Homo sapiens: one gene and its partner. The main gene of each other region encodes a partner of the protein of the gene in region 2 in a complex. Each region holds a gene or a part of one and is shown on either strand. Other genes may lie near its edges.

Evidence for each region.
Region 1: the proteins of ITGA4 (region 2) and YWHAZ are in contact, whole or in part, in a crystal structure (PDB 4HKC), measured with the Homo sapiens proteins. Residues at the interface, in NP_000876.3 of Homo sapiens: Arg1007, Gln1008, Tyr1009, Lys1010, Ser1011, Ile1012, Leu1013; in NP_001129171.1 of Homo sapiens: Lys49, Arg56, Lys120, Arg127, Tyr128, Glu131, Gly169, Leu172, Asn173, Val176, Tyr179, Glu180, Ile217, Leu220, Asn224, Leu227, Trp228.

The regions. Positions count from the first base shown.
Region 1 is NC_000008.11:100,915,820-100,918,645, forward strand, and holds the end of YWHAZ (14-3-3 protein zeta/delta), read right to left. Parts: 3' UTR 704-2,826; downstream 1-703.
Region 2 is NC_000002.12:181,530,062-181,533,888, forward strand, and holds part of ITGA4 (integrin alpha-4 isoform 1 preproprotein), read left to right. Parts: intron 1-462; coding exon 463-588; intron 589-1,595; coding exon 1,596-1,715; intron 1,716-3,827. UniProt on the Homo sapiens protein: Integrins alpha-4/beta-1 (VLA-4) and alpha-4/beta-7 are receptors for fibronectin. They recognize one or more domains within the alternatively spliced CS-1 and CS-5 regions of fibronectin. They are also receptors for VCAM1.

The DNA of each region.
Region 1 (2,826 bases), on a different chromosome or scaffold from region 2:
TTTGGCTTAAATTGTAGTCTTGCATTTTTCCCATCTGTGTTTCTCCTCCCCCTACAGACATCAGCTGCATGGACAACTGCATCATTAATAACCATGGGAGTTTTGGCTAAGAAAATGCATATTCCTGGGCTCCAACCTAAATATTCAGAATTCTTGAAACTGAATGCTGAGAATAGGCATTTAAAACGAGTTCCCCTCGGGAGTCTAGACATAGCCTATTTTTTATACTCCCACATAGCCCCCAAACCCAAACCTACAAGCACATGTTAAGTTCTTAATTCCCTGCATCTTGATTGTGCTGTATATCCATTTGGGTCCCATTCTGCAAATCTTCACTCAAACATGAATCTCTAAGCGCCCCCCGCCCTTTTTTTTTTTGACAGAGTTTTGCTCTTGTTGCCCAGGCTGGAGTACAATGGCATGATCTTGGCTCACTGCAACGTCCGCCTCTCGGGTTCAAGCAATTCTCCTGCCTCAGCCTCCCGAGGAGCTGGGATTACAGGCACGCACCACCATGCCCGGCTAAATTTTTTGTATTTTTAGTAGAGATGGGGTCTCACCATGTTGGCCAGGCTGGTCTCAAACACCTGACCTCAGGTGATCCACCCGCCTCAGCCTCCCAAAGTGCTGGGATTACAGGCGTGAGCCACCACACCCAGCCAGAATCTCTAAGCCTTTGTAAGAAAACACACAGAACAGCAGCTGGCCAAAGCAAACATCCAATGTTAGAAAATGTAAGCACAAACTGAAAATTCATAGGGTTTTAAATTCTAAAATTCGGAATACTAAGAAGTAATCAATTAAGACCAGTTAGGTTTGGACTTTCAAGGAATGAACTCAAATATGATCAAATATTCACATCTCTGGTATCACCTAGGATTGGCTAACATTATGCTTAAATATATTAACTTGTAACTGCTTCTGCATCCCAGAGACATATATGCCTGCTTGTCTGGCAAGGTTGGACATCCTGTTACAATCTATATTCAGGTCTCTCCACTTTGAAAAGGAACTAGAATCAATCAAGGAGACTGTGACTACTACCAGTCACATAAAAGTATTTAATTAGTTTCACACTTAGAAAAGAATCCAAGTCTATTTTCCAAGTGCCCAGTCTCAGCCACCACTTTACTATTGTACATATTTTCAGTTCTACCATAGTATTTCCTATATGGTAAATGAGAGAATACAATCAAGCCAAATTTATTTCTTGACCTTTCCCTAGAGGAATGTGTAAGACCATCATTGAGCATAGAGCACCAGTTTTCAAAGTCAAAGTTTCACTCTCCATTTGAAGCCTGACTACAAATAACCTAAGATAGCAGCTTCCAAATTGGCTTTGACTCATTTTAAAATATGCATTGAGCCATGACAAGACTGGTGACTCTTTTGCAGGAAAAACATAATAAACAAATTGAGCCCCAAAATTAAGCCACTAGACATATTCTTTCTCTTTCTCCCCCCACCCCCTATAACAGCATGAAGTAACAGCTGTTAACTGGAAAAACAAAGACCATAAGCCAGAGCTGCAGGAAAGCCCATCGTTTTTACTAATCACACTGCTGCTCCACTTTCTGAAGGACAACTCTTAAGTGGCCAATTTAAAAAAAACATACCAGGGTGGGCACAGTGGCTCACGCCTGTAATCCCAGCACTTTGGGAGGCCGAGGTGGGCGGATCACAAGGTCAGGAGAATGAGACCATCATGGCTAACACGGTGAAACCCTCTCTCTACTAAAAATACAAATAATTAGCCAGGAGTGGTGGCACATGCCTGCAGTCCCAGCTACTTGCGAGGCTGAGGCAGGAGAATCACTTCAGCCTGGGAGGAGAAGGTTGCAGTGAGCCGAGATCAGGCCACTGCACCCCAGCCTGGGCGAGAGTTGACACTCCGTCTTAAAAACAAACGAACAAAAAAATTCCAGTACTTTACACACAAAAAGTCATTGGATTTTCCAATTTCCTGGCACTAGGATGTTACATTGACAAAAGCAGACGTAAAGCCTGGATTTGGGACAATCAAGGAATAGTTACAAACACATTATTCAAATTCCAAAACAAAGAATCTCAGGTTGGAAATTTTCCTTAATCTATTGGGAACTACTATGTAGAAAACATTAGTTAATACTAGTGAAGTGTTTTCATTATTCCAGGATCAACCTAGTTCAGATGACTGATGCACATTAAATAGGCAAATGTGCCAAGTTTCAGGTTTTATTTACTTGAATAATATCACATCTCTACTGGGCGCGGTGGCTTATGCCTGTAATCCCAGCACTTTGGGAGGTTGAGATGGGCGGATTGCCTGAGGTCGGGAATTCAAGACCAGCCTGGACAACATGGTGAAACCCTGTCTCTACTAAAAACACAAAAATTAGCCAGGTGTGGTGGCGGGCACCTGTAATCCCAGCTACTTGGGAGGCTGAGGCAGGAGAATCGCTTGAACCCAGCAGGCGGAGGTTGCACTCAGCCGAGATCGCACCACTGCACTCAAGCCTGGGTGACAGAGCAAGACTCTTGTCTCCAAAAAAAAAAAAAACAACAAAAAAATTCCCACCTCTTCAGTCTAGCTATAAAATATAATTACTTTATATATATATATATATATATATATATATATATATAATTATTTTACCTCCTTGGCTTGGGGGTCAGGAGAAATCAGTAAGTGAGGTAAAAGAAAGAGCTGCGAGGGAAAAGGATTGTTGCCCTAGATGCAGAAGGTATCTTTTCTCCTGGAAATAAAGACCCCAAGGTCTCCATTGCACTTTTATTTGAATGTAATATTTGGGACAATTATTCAAAAGGGCCAATATTTCCCAATTT
Region 2 (3,827 bases):
ATTCTTGCACTGATGGTTCCATCAGAATTGTTTTGAGCTTAACAGGTTGAAGACAAAAGTCAACAAATCTACTAAATAGGTTTGAGGTCTGATTTTTAAAAATCCTATTTAAATTCCAGATTTAGAGAGAAGAATATGGTGTTATATTGTTTCGCCTATAAAGGCAAAGAAATATTTAATGTCATGCTAATGTTCCAATATCATTTTTCACATTTCTGCAAGGTTAAGGCCATTTTATCAGCTTAGAACCTATATCCAACCTGCTGTAATTTGGCTGGGTTTTTGTGTTTCTGCCACAGACATTTAATCACTCCCAAATCTGTCAAAAAAATTTCTACAATTTCAGAGGTACTTGATATATTTTAGCAAAGATAAGCTACTGGAACTTTTAAAACCAGGTTGCTTTTTGCTGTTTTTTCCAGTGTTGAAAGATAAGATTTCTCTTGCTTTCTGTCTTCATAGACTACTACTGGAGAATGCCACTTTGAAAATTATCAAAGAGTGTGTGCATTAGAGCAGCAAAAGAGTGCAATGCAGACCTTGAAAGGCATAGTCCGGTTCTTGTCCAAGACTGATAAGAGGCTATTGGTAAGTTTCAGTTTTTCAGGTTGTAGTTCCTGCTTTCCAACAGAGAAGTGAGACACTTAAAATCAAGTCAATGGGTTTGAGCTGTCACTTCAATAATAAGAGAGAAGACAAGTTTAGGTAGTATTCTTGCGTGGAAGGAACAAGCATGGTTGGAAAGTTGAGATAGACCCAGGGTCTATCCCATATATAAACATGTTGGCCGGGTGTGATGGCTCACGCCTGTAATCCCAGCACTTTGGGAGGCCGAGGTGGGCAGATCACAAGGTCAGGAGTTCGAGACCAGCCTGGCCAACAGAGTGAAACCCCGTCTCTACTAAAAATACAAAAATTAGACAGGTGCCTGTAATCCCAGCTACTCAGGAGGCTGAGGCAGGAGAATTGCTTGAATCCGGGAGGTGGAGGTTGCAGTGAGCCGAGATCACGCCACTGCACTCCAGCCTGGGTGACAGAGCAAGACTCCATCTCAAAAAGAAAAAAAAAAATGTTATACAGTTTCATTTTTTTATCTAACAAATGCCCACTATTTGCCAACAAGACATTGTTCCAGACCCTTCAGGACACCAAGAGGTTGTCTTCACCTGGGCAGCCTTTGTGGCATGGGTTAATTTTCATTCTTTTCAGCTTAGTGAATGTATGAAAAGAAACTGGAGAAGCATTCATCACCTTGAAATGATCCACGTTTTACAACAAACAAAGAATACGTAACTTAGCAAGACTCTGATTAGGAACATTTTTTAAAAATTCTGTCCCAGAAGATTATGTTAATACAAATAATAAGAACATATGCTGCAGTTTAAATACTTTATTATAATTTAGAAAACAAACATTCATGTCTTGTTTAAAGGTAATTTAAATGCCACTAAGGAAAGCAGATGTTTAATTTCATATTTATGGAAAGATGATTTTCAAAATGCCATTAGAGTATATATTAAATTCTATATAAAATATTTTAAAAATATTTTCCAATGTTGAAAATTTTAATGTAGCACTTTTATATTCCCTTCAAGTACTGCATAAAAGCTGATCCACATTGTTTAAATTTCTTGTGTAATTTTGGGAAAATGGAAAGTGGAAAAGAAGCCAGTGTTCATATCCAACTGGAAGGCCGGCCATCCATTTTAGAAATGGTAAGTAAGTCTAAAACATTGACAACTTGGTGGCTAAGTTTACATAAAATCTATAAATTCAGTCATATAGGCAGGATAGTATGAAGGCATTCAACAAATTAAATTTTAAATAAAATTTTGGAGTAAAACTCTAAAACTGTATTTCTATCACTTCAACTATCTACATTGACTAAGTGAAATGGCTTTAGAAATTAACAGGTAATAAAGGCTAAAATAGGCCAGGCACAGTGGCTCATGCCTGTAATCCCAGCACTTTGGGAGGCCAAGGCAGGAGGATCACTTGAGGCCAGGAGTTCGAGACCAGTTGTATTCCTAGGTAGATGTCTGGTGTTATTTCTGAGGTCTCTGTTCTGTTCCATTGGCCTCTGTATCTGTTTTGGTTAGCCTTGTAGTACAGTTTGAAGTCGGGTAGCCTGATGCCTCCAGCTTTCTTTTTGCTTAGGATTGTCTTGACTATATGGGCTCTTTTATGGTTCCATAGGAAATTTAAAGTAGTTTTTTCTAATTCTGTGAAGAAAGTCAATGGTAGCTTGATGGGAGTAGCCTTGAATCTGTAAATTACTTTGGGCAGTATGGCCATTTTCACGATATTGATTCTTCCTATCCATGAGCATAGAATATTTTTTTCCATTTGTTTGTGTCCTCTTATTTCCTTGAGCAGTGGTTTGTAGTGCTCCTTGAAGAGGTCCTTCACATCCCTTGTAAGTTGGATTCCTAGGTATTTTATTCTGTTTGTAGTGAATGGGAATTCACTCATGATTTGGCTCTCTGCTTGTCTATTATTGTATACGAATGCTTGTGACTTTTGCACATTGATTTTTGTATCCTGAGACTTTGCTGAAGTTGCTTATAAGCTTAAGGAGTTTTGGGGCTGAGACCATGGAGTTTTCTAAATATACAATCATGTCACCTGCAAACAATTTGACTTCCTCTCTTCCTATTTGAATACCCTTTGTTGCTTTCTCTTGCCTGATTGCCCTGGCCAGAACTTCCAATACTGTGTTGAATAGGAGTGGTGAGAGAGGGCATCCTTGTCTTGTGACGGTTTTCAAAGGGAATGCTTCCAGTTTTTGCCCATTCAGTATGATATTGGCTATGGGTTTGTCATAAATAGCTCTTATTGAGATATGTTCCATCAACACCTAGTTTATTGAGAGTTTTTAGCATGAAGGGATGATGAATTTTATTGAAGCCCTTTTATTTTAAAAATATAGCTAAGAAGAAAAACTAAGGCTTTCATAAAATCAAATAAAATCAAAATTCAACAACAAAAACATATTTAAATTTTAAAAATAATGAAATATATCTTGGACTTTTTCCTACAAAGGAGCATGTATATTTATGAGGAGTAGTTTGAGATGAAACTAGTTTTATGTGGAGTTCTGTTTTTCAGCTTTCTCATCTGTTCAATATGGATAAATGAGATGATTTTTATAAGCACTTAGTTCATGGAACATAGGAAGCCAAAGGAAATGGCAGCTGTTATGTTCAAGTGGAATTCTTGAAATTGCCAAACAGTGCTTAAGAGGAAGATACACTAGACAGGCAAAGAAGAAATATCCATTTTAGTTTCAACTGTGCTAAAAGCAAAGTCATTGAACCATCAGCAAGTCATTTAACCTTTTGCAGTTTGCCTTATCTTTTTCTCTAGGTCTAGGTTTTCCATCAGTGGCCATAATTGGCATTTTGAACCAGATAATTTTGTTTTGGGGGGTTGTCCTGTGCATTGTAGGATATTTAGTATCATCCTCAGCCTCTATACGCTCACTGCTGGTAGTACCACCTCCCACGTTCTGACACTTGACAGTTTCTTTAGACATTCCTGACTGTCCCTTAGGTGATAAAACCCTCCCTGCTGAGAACCACTGCTCTAGATCTATAGGAAGCTTGTCATTTTTGGCTCTAAAATGTTAAATAACATTTACACAATAGTTTTAAAGGTCATATCCCTCTTTAAGAATCTGACTAAATATATTCTCATCTCCCTCAGCAAATGCACACATGAAAACATCTCCTAAAGATTCTTAGAATTTATAAAGCCCTTCTACAGATCCCCAAGCTTCATGGATTCTGCGTTATAAAATCCTTGCTTTAGATAGTAAAGTTCTGAGT